4 linked regions of the Homo sapiens genome follow. The protein of the gene in region 3 interacts with the protein of the main gene of each other region in a biochemical or structural test. Each region holds a gene or a part of one and is shown on either strand. Other genes may lie near its edges.

Region 1 (3,500 bases), on a different chromosome or scaffold from region 3:
AGAAATAGGAACACTTTTACACTGTTGGTGGGACTGTAAACTAGTTCAACCATTGTGGAAGTCAGTGTGGCGATTCCTCAGGGATCTAGAACTAGAAATACCATTTGACCCAGCCATCCCATTACTGGGTATATACCCAAAGGACTATAAATCATGCTGCTATAAAGACACATGCACAGTTTTTCTTATCCTAGACAGTTTTAAGAAGGACAGGCCTTGGCCGGGCGCGGTGGCTCACGCCTGTAATCCCAGCACTTTGGGAGGCCGAGACGGGTGGATCACGAGGTCGGGAGATTGAGACTATCCTGGCTAACATGGTGAAACCCCATCTCCACTAAAAATACAAAAAAAAAAAATTAGCCGGGTGTGGTGGTGGGTGCCTGTAGTCCCAGCTACTCGGGAGGCTGAGGCCGGAGAATGGCGTGAACCTGGGAGGCAGAGCTTGCAATGAGTCAAGATCATGCCACTGCACTCCAGCCTCGGCGACGGAGCGAGACTCCGTCTCACAAAAAAAAAAAAAAAAAAAAAAAAAGCAAGGACAGGCCTTACATCCTACGATGTTTCTCATTTTGGGTCTGTTTGGGTCTGTTTAGTGTTTCTTGATGACCATGTTCAGGTCACGCTCTCTTGGCAGGAATCATAGAAATGATGCTGTGTTCTTCGCATGCATCACACCAGGGGACACATGATGCTGACTTGTCCCAACACTGTCAGTGACCTTAATCACTTGGTCACCTTGGTGTCTGCCAGGTTTCTTCTCTGTAATGTCACCTTTTTTCTCTTTATAATTGATAGTATTTTCAGGGGACATATCGTAAGATTATGCCAATATCCTATTTCTCGTCAAGTCTTCATCCTCAGTTTTAGCATCCATTGATGAATTCTATCTGAACCAAACACCACTATTTTGTTTTATTTCCATCTCTGTTAGTTGGCATTCTATGTAAGAAGAGCTTTCCTTTTCCTGTCATTTATTTATATCAGCATAGACTTGTAAAATCCCACTTTATTCAGCAGGTTGTAATCAGTTACTGTCATTAAATATTTTATTGCTCATACTGTCCCAGTTTGTCCAGTGGGAGCCCTTTCAAGGAGGTTCCTAGGTCTTCGTAACAAGTCCCCATCATTCTTTGAACACTTTCTGGCAGAAGTTGTTCCAGGCTTCTCTTGTATTTTGCTTGGCTCAGCTATCTACAATCAGCCATTTTCCCTAGAAGCACTGGTCCTATTTAGTATAAAATGGTTTTTACATGCTACAATTTGGGTACTTGGTGTGCTCATTGTTACTGGGATATACTCTTGGACCATCTCTGAACAGTTAAGCGTGTGTGTGTGTGTGTGTGTGTGTGTGTATGTGTACTCTACACACATATATAAGTATACACAAAGATCTATAGCTATTTCTATATCAATCTGTAAATACATAAATTTAAAAATCATGAATTCATACTGATTTTTTCCAATTCAAACCTAATACCTGAGTTCCTTTATAGCCATAAGTACCTTTTCTAACAGTGAAAAAATTTGACTTTTATTATCCTTAATATATTTGTTCATTGACTTATGTGTTCAGTGTAACTAACTTCCTGACCACGCAGACATCTCCTCTGCCACTTCAGCTCTTCACATCCTTGGATGCCAGTGGGAATATTGCTATTCTCTATGCAGCATCCCTGTGCAACGCCGTCCTCCCCTCCTCAGTACCCTTGCCAGTGGGCACCCTTCTGATGCATCTCTGTATGGTATCTCCCTCCTCCCCTCAGTGCCCCGTGCTGGCGAGCATGCCAACCATGCACCTCTGTGAAATTCACCCTCACTCCACAGACATTTTCTGTAGTGGCCTGTGATTGACTGCTCTGCGCCAGGAACAGAAAAGGAGAAGGAACTATAATTTCTTTTATAGGTAATTAGGAATTCATATATCACATAGGAGTAGAATCTTTGAGCTGGAAGAGACCTTGTAAATAAATCATTTAGGGTGAGCAGGGGTATAGAAAATGGGATTCTTTTGTGTTGGAATTCTGGCCCTGTCACTTACTTGGTGAATCTTGCATAATTAAACATCAGTCAGAGCAGGATATTTAAGTCTGCTGATTCTCCCATCCCCTTGCTGTCTCAGAAATATTCTATAGCATTTGGAGACATGCAGGAACCAGTTGAACACAATTGCTTCTCAATCTATCATGGTTATCTACTCCAGAGCTGAATCTTTAAGTCAGATAGCTGATTTGAATTGCTGAACCCATTGTTCTGCTGAATTCTGTGGCAATTGATGTTACTTCTTCTTTAGGACTTCTATTTCTTCTGGCCTCCTTGCCAATAGTATCAAAGTTTAAGAGGATAAATGAATGGGGAGGGGATAGGAGAAGTCTGGAGATAAATGCAGGGAGAAAGGCACAGCACAAACAAAAAGCATTTTGATAAGGCTTTTCTGAAAGTTGAGTAAATATGTCTGTAGCCCATTATTATAACTCATGGCTGGACTCAAATGTCTGGCTTCAACTGATGCGAGACATGTTGGGGCAATGAAGAGAGTAATATGAACAAACAATCATGGCCGTCAATAAAGATGCTTTAGTGAAAGTATTCTCCTTTGGGAAAAAGAGTCAACCTAAATAAATAGCAACTGCCTTTAACTGAATACCCACTCTGTGCCAGGCACCAGGTTAGATTTTTTCATACTTTAGCTGTAATCATCACAACATTATTGCAGAAGTAGGAAGTATTACCCCCATTTTAGAGATAAGGAATATGAGATTCTGATTTGTTCAAGAACCTTCTCCCAGTAGGGAGAAGTGTTATATTCATAACAAACACTTGGTCCTTCCACTTTCCTGCTACTAATACGCAAATAAAATAATTTAACAGAAGAGACTTTTTCTCAGGAATATGATGAATGTGAATGGAATGTGTGCAAAATTAACTTGTAATTGTTATGCTCTCATTTCCACATCTTCTGTCTTTTCTTGATAAAGCTTTTAGGTGGACCTCTGAAGTACTTGATTTCTGTATTTGCTTAACAAATATTTGATGAACACTATGTATCAGGCACGTGGGTCAGGGCATGAGGTATAATGATATAGAATATACTTTACCGATTTTATAGCCAAGAGGGAGAGAGAAACATTAAATAAATTATCACACATCAATATTTTATAAGTGTTATTAAGGAAAACAGTGTAAGATGAAAGTATTTATAACAGGCTGGGCGCAGTGGCTCACACCTGTAATCCCAGCACTTTCGGAGGCTGAGATGGGTGGATCACTTGAGGTCAGGAGTTCGAGACCAGCCTGGCCAACATGGTGAAACCCTGTCTCTACCAAAAATACAAAAATTAGCCAGGCATGGTAGCATATACCTGTAGTCTCAGGTACTTGAGAGGCTGAGGCAGGAAAATTGTTTGAATCGGGAGGTGGGGGTTGCAGTGAACCGAGACTGCGCCACTGCACTCCAGTCTGGGCAACAGAAGAACACTCTGTCTCAAAAAAAAAAAAAAAAG
Region 2 (3,500 bases), on a different chromosome or scaffold from region 3:
GAGGCTGTTCCTTGAAGTTCCTTTATCTGCCTAGAAACCAGACCCACCAAAAGGAATACAATTGCCTTTGATCCCCTCCTCAAAATTTCATTAACCAGAGAAGCCTGAAACTTGTATGACAGAGGAAAAGACTAAAAATTAAATATCACACCTAGAGAGCTCAGAGGAACTTTGCCCAGACTATTGTCTGTTCTCAGATCCCATTCAGTTTCCAAAGAGAATTATTTACTAACCATTGTCTGTGTACTGGGCCCATTCATTCTTCCTAAAAATCATTTACTGCCCTTCAAAATGGCGTCATTTCCCTCATGTCCCCTTCCCCTGTGAAGAAGGGTATTATATAGTATCTGGAACTCACTTGGTTATTGGGTAATAATTGTCTTGCAATTTCCCCCATGCTTATGCACCTTAAATAAATTTGTTTGCCATTTTCTCCTGTTAATTTGTCTATTATCAGTTCATTTTCAGCGAACCTTTAGAGGGTAGAGGGGAAGTTTTCCTTTTGGCCCCTATAAAGTGATCTTGAAAGAAATGTTTCTTTATCTGACATAAAAAAGGATGGAGAAAGGAAGCATTATTGTACCTCTGACTTTCTAACAAATTACCATAAAGGAAGAATATTTTTCGTCTACTATTGTTAGAACACCTTAGAACCATCAAAAATATAATTACATGGCTAATAGAAAAAAAAAGAGCAGTTTTAAAATATGTTTTATGTAACCTATTTTCATTGTTTTTCATTTTGTTGTTGCCGAGTAGTAGTTGTTCTAAGTAAATACAGGTCTCAATTTCACTATGAATAAAAACTGTCAAAATCAAGAAACTAAAAAAAAAGTTCTTTAATTACTAATGTCAAAACCATACTGTTTTTAAGATAATTTGTAAAGTCTAGAAATGGGGCCATTCGCCATTTTGTTTTATGCCATAGATCATCCTGGGGTTTTTTGGTGGGCAAATGCTGCTATTTGTAAAACTCTTCCTTCCAAAGATTTTCCTAAATCTTTATTCTCAAACTTACTCTGGGTGATGGGTCCTGGACAGAATAGCTTCACTTCCTTTAAAGGTAACTTCTTTGTTTCATCTTTACTGCCTACTGTGTCGTCTTTTCTTATGTTGAAGTTGACAGACCTGCTCTATTCTCATACTAATAGACTATTTTTAGATTTTTTTAAAGTAATCACAATAAATTCAGTATATCTTAAGTCTTTTGGCTTCCTGTGAACTTCTTCCCTTGACAGTTTATCTTAGCACTGAAACATCAAATATATTGTATCTGCTTTATCTAATACTCAGAAACAAAGAACCTACGTGACCAATATCAAATTTTATTTTTTAGTTCTGACTCCTAAAGTCTTGCTGTCCTATCCTCAATGCTGTTAAAAACTTCTGAGGTTCCAGTTTTGTTATGTGGTGACTCCATTGGCTCCTGTCTTCGTCAGTCTGCTTCTTCTTGGGTAGCTTGGGAATTCTGTGCTATGGTGATATGTCTGGATACAATTTGTAAGTCAGCCTACACAGCCAGACCATGTGGCTTAAAGTAATTTTTATCCGTCTTATTTTTTACTCTTAGGCAATGCGGAATATCAATCCCAGCACAGCAAATTCTCCAAAATGTCAGGTAGGCTCTTATCTGATGTTTTAGCACTGGAAAAAAAAAAAAAAAGATATTAAATTAGGAAAGAGAAACTTACATTCCAGGGTCCTGTCCTTATTGGACATTAGCCCAGAGAATAACTTTGAGCCATCTTTCTACCAAGATACTCAGGTTAACATTGCCCTTCCAAGAAAGTCTACACAGTCTGCTCCCTCCCTGCTCCTCCTAGGGAGTTTCTGTTTATTTTGATTCCATGGAGGTCTTTTTTATTCTATATTTAAATGTATTGTGTCTCAGTTGTACATCCTATCAGCTAGGTATGCCTAATTTTTATTTGAATAGCTTAAAATAGTATGTGTAATGATTTAAAGGAATTAATAAATTGAACAGTAACAAAAGCAGTATTTACTTGGATAGGCTACTTTAGGAAATTTTAGAGTCATGATACTATGAGGAAGAGAAAAATTCTTTCTAGTGGACATTCCAAAGGAAAAATATCAAAATTATCAGGAGAGTATCTGCCTGGATAGTGTTTCAGGTTTTCTTGTTGGCTTTTATCAGCATTCTCTGATGAACCCCAGGGAGCCCTGGTTGTGAAGGCATCTTATTTAGAAGGAAAGATTGTGGCCAATTTTTCTTCTAACACAGGCACTTGTCTGACTCGTGGGAAGAATCTCGTTCTTAAAACCAAAAAGATTTTAGGTGTTTGAGGTCCACAAGATTAGAAGAAATTCGGAGCCAGAGGATCATTCTACTTCTCTTGGGGCAGAAGCAACCATATAATGCCTCACCTTCTATGTAACTTACTCTGCACTATGCTAAATAAGTACATTGTTTTAGAATCTGCTGTAGAAGTAGGAGTTGGCAAAATTCTACTCATTTTGGATACTGTTAAGTTGTCCGTTGGAGCACCATGATGATAAAAGTCAGATACAGTCTTCATAGAAACCAGTTAATTTTGTGAGAGGGAAAATCTCTATTCTTCTTTATCTATCTCATAAATGCCACCATTAATCAAAAGACCAAGCAAGGGATAACTCAATAATAAGCCATCTTCACCAAAGTTGAGCATAGACATTCTTATGATGAGGGGGCACTAATATACCATTTGACTGTGAAGTGCAGGATAGCATTGGGTCTTTATAACGTGAAGCCATTTTTTTCTTTGCCATTTCTCTGAAGTGTTTGTTTTGTTTTGTCTTTTTGTTTTTGTTTTTTGTTTTTGTTTTTGAGATGGAGTTTCGCTCTGTTGCCGAGGCTGGAGTGCAGTGGTGTGATCTCGGCTCACTGCAAGCTCCGCCTTCCGGGTTCACACCATTCTCCTGCCTCAGCCTCCCAAGTAGCTGGGACTACAGGCGCCCGCCACCATGCCCAGCTAATTCTTTTTGAATTTTTTAGTAGAGACGGGGTTTCACAGTGTTAGCCAGGATGGTCTCGATCTCCTGACCTCGTGATCCGCCCACCTCAGCCTCCCAAATTGCTGGGATTACAGGCGTGAGCCACCACGTCTGGCCTGAAGTGTTTCTGAAAGAAGAATTTTATTCATGATAAATGAAATAGAAACTAATATAGGAGCAGAAATTAACTCAAAGGAGATTTGGATTCAGGTAAAAAGTCCTCCATGCCAAAAAAATGTTGAAATTGTTTCCTTTTTTCCCAAGGTCTTATACCCTGAATCTGATAAATAAGTCAAATTCTTCTTGATCTTTGTTTCATACTTGAATAGAAAAGTAAATCTTTACTGTTATTAAAATTATCAGGAATTCTTAGATTTTTTAAAATAGTAAAGTTTTAGAAAAGGTGAGGCTTATTAGTAGTAAAGCTTCTAAGATACGAAGATTAGAGGTAATTACTCAGATTTGCCCAGACCAGAGCAAAAAACTTGAAAGAGGTTTTTAAAAATCTT
Region 3 (3,500 bases):
AACCTTAGTTTTCTCCCTAGTCTAGCAACCAGAACTCGCTTTGCCTAAAATGGATGTGGTCAGAATGTGGGGGCGTTGGGGGTGGGGGGGTCAAGCAGAAGGGCTCTCTGCTTAGACAGTAGAAGGCCCCCTTCCCTGAACCTGTGGAAATGGCCTGCGGGGGAAGCTGAAGTATTCGAATCAGATCGTTGTTCCGGTTTTAGGAAATCCCCAGGAAGCATCAGCCGAGTGTGCCCAAAGCCGAGGAGCCCCTCAAGACCGTGCAGGAGAAGAAAAAGTTCCGGCACCGGCCGGAACCTCTCTTCATCCCGCCGCCGCCCTCCTACAACCCGAACCCCGCTGCCTCCTACTCGGGCGCCACCCTGTACCAGAGCCAGCTGCGCTCCCCGCGCGTCCTCGGGGACCACCTGCTCCTGGACCCCACCCACGAGCTGCCCCCTTACACGCCCCCACCCATGCTGAGCCCGGTGCGCCAGGGCTCGGGGCTCTTCAGCAATGTCCTCATCTCCGGCCACGGCCCTGGCGCCCACCCGCAGCTGCCCCTGACGCCCCTGACGCCCACACCACGGGTGCTGCTGTGTCGCTCCAGTGAGTCACCCCTTTAGCGTCCTCCTGGGCTCTGGGTGCTGGGTAAAGTCCTGGGACATCTCGTTTTCTTTAGCTTTCTCATTTATCCCACAGACTTTTGCGGAGTATTGGCTGTATGTAGCACGCGCTGCTGGGTGTTAAGAAAGACTTGGAATACATAGCCCTTATCCTCAAGGGAATCGCAGTCTAATTGGGAGACAGATGCATAAAGTGATCACTACAGTCTCTGGGATAAGGAAACAGTTGAAATGTTCACCCACTTTTTAAGGCTGCCAGCAATGATCGTGCAAGAGAGAAAAAATGAGACCGGGCGCGGTGGCTCACACCTGTAATCCCAGCGTTTTCGGAGGTCGAGGCGGGTGGATCACTTGAGGCCGGGAGTTGGACACCAGCCTGGCCAACATGGTGAAACCCCGTCTCTACTAAAAATACAAAAATTAGCCGGGCATGGTGGCACGCACCTGTAATCCCAGCTACTTGGGAAGCTGAGGCAGGAGAATCGCTTAAACCTGGGAGGCAGAGGTTGCAGTGAGCCAAGATCATGCCACTGCACTCTAGCCTGGGGGATGAGAGTGAAACTCCGTCTCAAAAAAAAAAATAACGGGATGTGGTAGCAGGCACCTGTAGTTCCAGCTACTCAGGAGACTGAGGCAGGAGAATCTCTTGAACCCGGGAAGCGGAGGCTGCAGTGAGCCGACATCGCGCCACAGCACTCCCGCCTGGGCGAAGGAGCGAGACTCCGTCTCAAAAAAAAGAAAATGTACTCAGTAGATGTACAAATAAGATTAGGTATTACATGCAAGATCAAGCCTTGACATTTTAGCATGCTTTATAAAAATCAAGCATAGAGAGGCTAGGATCTCTTTCTGGAGCAAGAATAATTGCATAGAAATCATACCGCTTAGCAGACCATTGTGGGACAGCTGGCTTCTCCTCACCCTGTGTGAGAAATGGGTAACCCTAAGTTATTTTGCACCATACTCCACCCAGCTCCCTGGAAACTGTCAAGGATAACTCTGGCAGGAGCTGGGTAGGAGAGAAGCTCTATTATGGCTGGTTAGGTAACTGCTCATTTGCTTTAGTCTTTTTCAACATTCCTTCCCTGTTGACTAGTGACCTCTGATTTTTGTGTTTTAGACAGCATCGATGGCAGCAACGTGACGGTCACCCCAGGGCCTGGAGAGCAGACTGTAGATGTTGAACCGTAAGGAAAAGTCAATTACTCTTTAGAACAGAAGCCTCAGCTTCTTGAGAAGTATAGTTAATACTTTTGTAGTCAGAGGATTACACTGAGAGAGCAGTTGTAGAAATTGTAGGATCGTGGTTATTTCTTGAGTACTGTTGTTTCCCTGCACAATGGTTGCCAGTATTTCAAGGCCTTTGCCAAAGACTAAATACATGGTCAAAGCATGAAGCCCTGTATTCAGAGAGCCTAGCGTCCCTGCGTCTGGCTCCACAGGCAGTGCTTTCTCATCCCCAGTGACACAGGCATCTCCCTCCGGGTGGCTCATTCTTTAAGAGGCTCCTTCTGAATGTCTTCACTTCCCTCCTCCCCAATTCTTGGCCAGTCCTCCAAATGGGCTTGTTAAGTACTTTAATTTTGCATAGGCAGTGGGTGGTATTAGGAGAGGCAAAGGTGGTTATTTTCATGGATAGGCACAGAAAAGAGGCCAGGTGGTAGAGTGGTGAGTAGATTGAGTCAGGAATCAAAAAACCTAAGTTCCAACACCATTTTGTAATTTGATCTTGATCCAGTTAACCTTTGTAGGGTTTAGTTGACTCGTCAAATGGGAGTAATTATTCCAGCCTTGCTTACATCACAGATCTCTGTGAGGTTCGGATGGGATAATATCTGTGAAAGTGATCTGAAAGAGATAAAAAAATGAATGCTTTGTATTTGTCCCCTTTTTTGTGTTGTTAAATGGCACCATTGGCCATGCTCTGGGAAACTGTTATGTTGGAAATAATCACCCTCCCTCTCCCAGTTACAGGGAGCTGTAAAAGCCCCAGGCCGACTGCCCCCTTGCTCCTAAAATATTTCTCCCTAATCTTAAAGCTGTTCCTTATCCCAGTGAAAAGGCCACGTGTGGAATCTTAGGGTCACACTGTGAGGAAATGCCCCTGCATTCTTGCAGAAAGAACTAGTTTCCTTCTTTTTCAAGTTCCTGACAGTTGCCCTTGGCCTGAGCCATCAAATTGAAGACCACATTGTTGTTTTTCTTCTTGTCATTTAAAGACGCATCAACATTGGCTTGAGATTCCAAGCAGAAATCCCTGAACTCCAAGATATCTCTGCCCTGGCCCAGGACACACACAAGGCCACACTGGTATGGAAGCCCTGGCCAGAACTAGAAAACCATGACCTCCAGCAAAGAGGTATTGGCATATGGGAAGAGCTGGGTGGGAGAGGTTTGATTCTCTCACTGAGATCACTGGCTCTGGGATTGGTGTGTTTTCCATTACACTCAGCTCTCTCTGATGCATTGGCTTCTCCTTATTCCCAACAGTGGAGAATCTTCTGAATTTGTGCTGTTCCAGTGCATTGCCAGGTGGAGGGACCAATTCTGAATTTGCTTTGCACTCTCTGTTTGAGGCCAAAGGTGATGTGATGGTAAGGAACCATGAAAAAGAGGCTTTACAAATTCCTGAAGAGTATTTTCCCAAGTTTCAATATTGTCTCATGTACCATACAACCAATTTGTAATGACCAATCGGCGCATGATGACCAATCAGCACGCCTCCCTATTCCTTCTCTCGGTGGGTAGGTCAGGATGTTAAAGTCTGTAGAAAAAAATCTCCAATTGGATTTCTGTTTCCACATCTGTTCCTAAAGTTAGAACTGTGGGTACATCTGTCCTAGGACATTAGAATTTCTTTTCCACATCTTGCACTTCACATCAGAAAACTGAGTC
Region 4 (3,500 bases), on a different chromosome or scaffold from region 3:
AAGGCCAAGGCAGGCAGATCACAAGGTCAGGAGATTGAGACCATCCTGGCCAACATGGTGAAACCCCATCTCTACTAAAAATACAAAAATTAGCTGGGTGTGGTGGCATGTGCCTGTAATCCCAGCTACTAGGGAGGCTGAGGCAGGAGAATGGCTTGAACCTGGGAGGCGGGGATTGCAGTGAGCCAGGATAGCACCACTGCACTCCAGCCTGGTAACAGAGCAAGACTCTGTCTCAAAACAAACAAACGAATGAACAAAACACTTCATCATATCTTGTGAGACATATTCACTGTCATGCAAACAGCAGGGGAAAGACCCACCCCCGTGATCCCATGATTCAGTTATCTCACTGATTCTCTCTTACAACACATGGGAATTATGGGAGCTACAAGGTGAGATTTGGGTGAGGACACAGAGCCAAACCATATCATTCTGCCCCTAGCCCCTCCCAAATCTCATGTCTTCACATTTCAAAACCAATCATGCCTTCTCAACAGTCCCCAAAGTCTTAACTTATTTCAGCATTAACTCAAAAGTCCACAGTCCAAAGTCTCATCTGGGACAAGGGAAGTCCCTTCCGCCTATGAGCCTGTAAAATTAAAAGCAACTTAGTTACTTCCTACATACACTCAGGGATACAGGCATTGGGTAAATACAGCCATTCAAGATGGGAGAAATTGGCCAAAACAAAGGAGCTACAGGCCCCATGCAAGTTTGAAATCCAGCAGGGCAGTCAAATCTTCAAGTTCCAAAATGATCTCTTTTGACTCCATGTCTCATATGCAAGTCACCCTGATGTAAGAGGTGGCCTCCCATGGCCTTGGGCAACACTGCCCTTGGGGCTTTGCAGGGTATAGCCCCCCACCGGCTGCTTTCATGGGCTGGCGTTGAGTGTCTATGGCTTTTCCAGTCTCATGCTGCAAGCTGTTGGTGGATCTACCATTCTGGGGTCTAGAGGACGGTTGCCCTCTTCTCACAGCTCCACTAGGCAGTGCCCCAGTAGGGACTCTGTATGGGCCTCCAACTTCACATTTCCCCTCCACACTGACCTAGCAGAGGTTCTCTGTGAGTGCCCTGCCCCTGCAAGCAGACTTTTGCCTGGGCATCTAGGCATTTCCATACGTCTTCTGAAATCTAGAGGGAGGTTCCCAAGCCTCAATTTTTGCCTTCTGTGCACCCTCAGGCTCAACAGCACGTGGAAGCTGCCAACTCCTGGGGCTTCCACCTTCTGAAGCAACAACCCGGGCTGTACCTTGGCCACTTTTAGTCATGCTGGAGCAGCTAGGAAACAGGGCACCAAGTCCCTAGAGTGCACACAGCGTGGGGACCCTGGGCCCGGCCCATGAAACCATTTTTAGCTCCTAGGCCTGCCTACAGGCTTGTGATAGGAGGGGCTTCCATGAAGACCTCTGACGTGCCCTGTAGACATTTTCCACATTGTCTTGGGGATTAACATTCGGGTCCTCATTACTTATGCAAATTTCTGTAGCCAGCTTGAATTTCTCCTCAGAAAATGAGATTTTCTTGTCTATTGCATTGTTGGGCTGCAAATTTTCCAAACTTTTATGCTCTGCTTCCCTTACAAAACTGAATGCCTTTAACAGCACGCAAGTCTCCTCTTGAATGCTTTGCTACGTAGAAATTTATTCCACCAGATACCCTAAATCATCTCTCTCAAGTACAATCGTCTCTCTCAAGTACAAATCCACCAGTCTCTAGCACAGGGGCAAAATGCTGCCAGTCTCTTTGCTAAAACATACAAAGAGTCACCTTTGCTGCATTTCCCAAAAAGTTTCTCATTTCCATCTGAGAACACCTCAGCCTGGACTTTATTGTCCATATTGCTGTCAGCATTTTGGTCAAAGCCATTCAACAAGTCTATAGGAAGTTCCAAACTTTCCCACATTTTCCTGTCTTCTTCTGAGCCCTCCAAACTGTTCCAACGTCTGCCTGTTACCCAGTTCTAAAGTTGCATCCACATTTTCAGTTATCTTCAGCAGCACCCCACTCCTGGTAACAATTTACTGTTTTCACACTGCTGCTAAGACATACTTGAGAGTGGACAATTTACAAAAGAAAGAGGTTTAATGGACTTACAGTTCCACATGGCTGGGGAGGCCTCACAATCATGGTGGAAGGCAAGGAGGAGCAAGGCATGTCTTACATGAATGGCAGCCGGCAAAGAGAGAGCTTGTGCTGGGAAACTCCCATTTTAAAACCATCAGATCTTGTGAGACTTATTCACTATAATGAGAACAACATGAGAAAGGCCCGCCCCCATGATTCAGTTATCTCCCACTGGTTCTCTCCCATAACACATAGGAATTATGGGAGCTACAAGATGTGATTTGGGTGGGGACACAGAGCCAAACTATATCATAAGGTTGGGTAAAATTTATAACTAAAATGATGTTTTATAGTATATCCTTTCTGATTATTTCCATTGGTTCATGCTACTAGTCTCAAGAGCTAATAGTTCATTCATACCTTCTCAATAGCAATTCTTTCCAGCCAGGGTTAAATTTTGCATATTTACTTCTTAAGTTCCAGGTTCTGCATTTCTTGCCTGGTTTTTCCCTCCATAATTGAAAGTATACTATTTAACACAGTGAGCTGTCATTATTTCTTGGACAACAATCTATCCTTTTAAAAGTTTATTTTGAAATCTGCTTTTAAAATGTAGTCAATTCGTTTTTGTCAATTCTCCAGTTTTTTTGTTATGATATGTCTAGATTTTCTTATGACATATATAGCATTCCAGAGAGGTAATGTTTCGAGATTCCAAGAGATGTACTACGTTTCTCAATAGTTTTGTTGCTGGTAAGATAACATTTTAAGATAATGGGCAGCTAAAAAGGTTTTTAGTATCTACTTCAATAATGGCTTGCTTAAAATTTCAGAGTTTGGGGGGTTTTTAGTATTATTTTAAGAAGTATAATTTCCTTAGAATAAAATGCACTGATCTTAAGTGTAGAAGTTGAAATTTGACAAATATATATATCAGCCCAAATGTGAGCATTTTATGGAGAGAAGTTGTGCTAGATCACTCATTTAATTACCAATTCTGTAAACACTGTTCCATATAGCATCATGTCCATGTAAATATGACCCAAATTGTGGAACTTTTTTTTCTATTCTGGACCCCATAAGGGGCCAATGCACACCTCCCTTCTCCCAGCCCCAGAGGTAGGTAACCATTTCTGTTTAGTTCTATTTCTATAACTGTTTCTGATCTTAAACTTCCTAAAATGAAATCATAGAGTATGTACTCTTATATCTAGCTTTTAGTGTCTGATTTTTTCTTTTATTTGGTGTTTGTGAGATTCAGCCATATTGTTTATATCAGTATTTTATTCCTTTTTATTGCTGAGAAATATTCCATGCTGTGTATATCTCAAAATTTGTTTATCCATTCTCTTGGTGATAAATGTTTTGGTTGTTTCTCAGTCTGGGGCTTTTATGAGTAAAGCTGCTATAAACATTCTTGTGATATCTTT

The links. Proteins that work in one complex are often made in the same cells at the same time.
Region 1: the proteins of TRERF1 (region 3) and NEDD4 interact in a test that uses a peptide from one of them, tested with the Homo sapiens proteins (2 studies listed by BioGRID and IntAct, with this or other methods).
Region 2: the proteins of TRERF1 (region 3) and YAP1 interact in a test that uses a peptide from one of them, tested with the Homo sapiens proteins (2 studies listed by BioGRID and IntAct, with this or other methods).
Region 4: the proteins of TRERF1 (region 3) and ITCH interact in a test that uses a peptide from one of them, tested with the Homo sapiens proteins (one large-scale study listed by BioGRID and IntAct).

Annotation. Positions count from the first base shown.
Region 1 is NC_000015.10:55,983,613-55,987,112, reverse strand, and holds part of NEDD4 (E3 ubiquitin-protein ligase NEDD4), read left to right. Parts: intron 1-3,500. UniProt on the Homo sapiens protein: E3 ubiquitin-protein ligase which accepts ubiquitin from an E2 ubiquitin-conjugating enzyme in the form of a thioester and then directly transfers the ubiquitin to targeted substrates. Specifically ubiquitinates 'Lys-63' in target proteins.
Region 2 is NC_000011.10:102,207,947-102,211,446, forward strand, and holds part of YAP1 (transcriptional coactivator YAP1), read left to right. Parts: intron 1-1,570; coding exon 1,571-1,618; intron 1,619-3,500. UniProt on the Homo sapiens protein: Transcriptional regulator with dual roles as a coactivator and corepressor. Critical downstream regulatory target in the Hippo signaling pathway, crucial for organ size control and tumor suppression by restricting proliferation and promoting apoptosis.
Region 3 is NC_000006.12:42,256,427-42,259,926, reverse strand, and holds part of TRERF1 (transcriptional-regulating factor 1), read left to right. Parts: intron 1-203; coding exon 204-588; intron 589-1,725; coding exon 1,726-1,792; intron 1,793-2,165; exon of another isoform or gene 2,166-2,453; intron 2,454-2,824; coding exon 2,825-2,964; intron 2,965-3,095; coding exon 3,096-3,199; intron 3,200-3,500.
Region 4 is NC_000020.11:34,481,773-34,485,272, forward strand, and holds part of ITCH (E3 ubiquitin-protein ligase Itchy homolog), read left to right. Parts: intron 1-3,500. UniProt on the Homo sapiens protein: Acts as an Acts as an E3 ubiquitin-protein ligase which accepts ubiquitin from an E2 ubiquitin-conjugating enzyme in the form of a thioester and then directly transfers the ubiquitin to targeted substrates.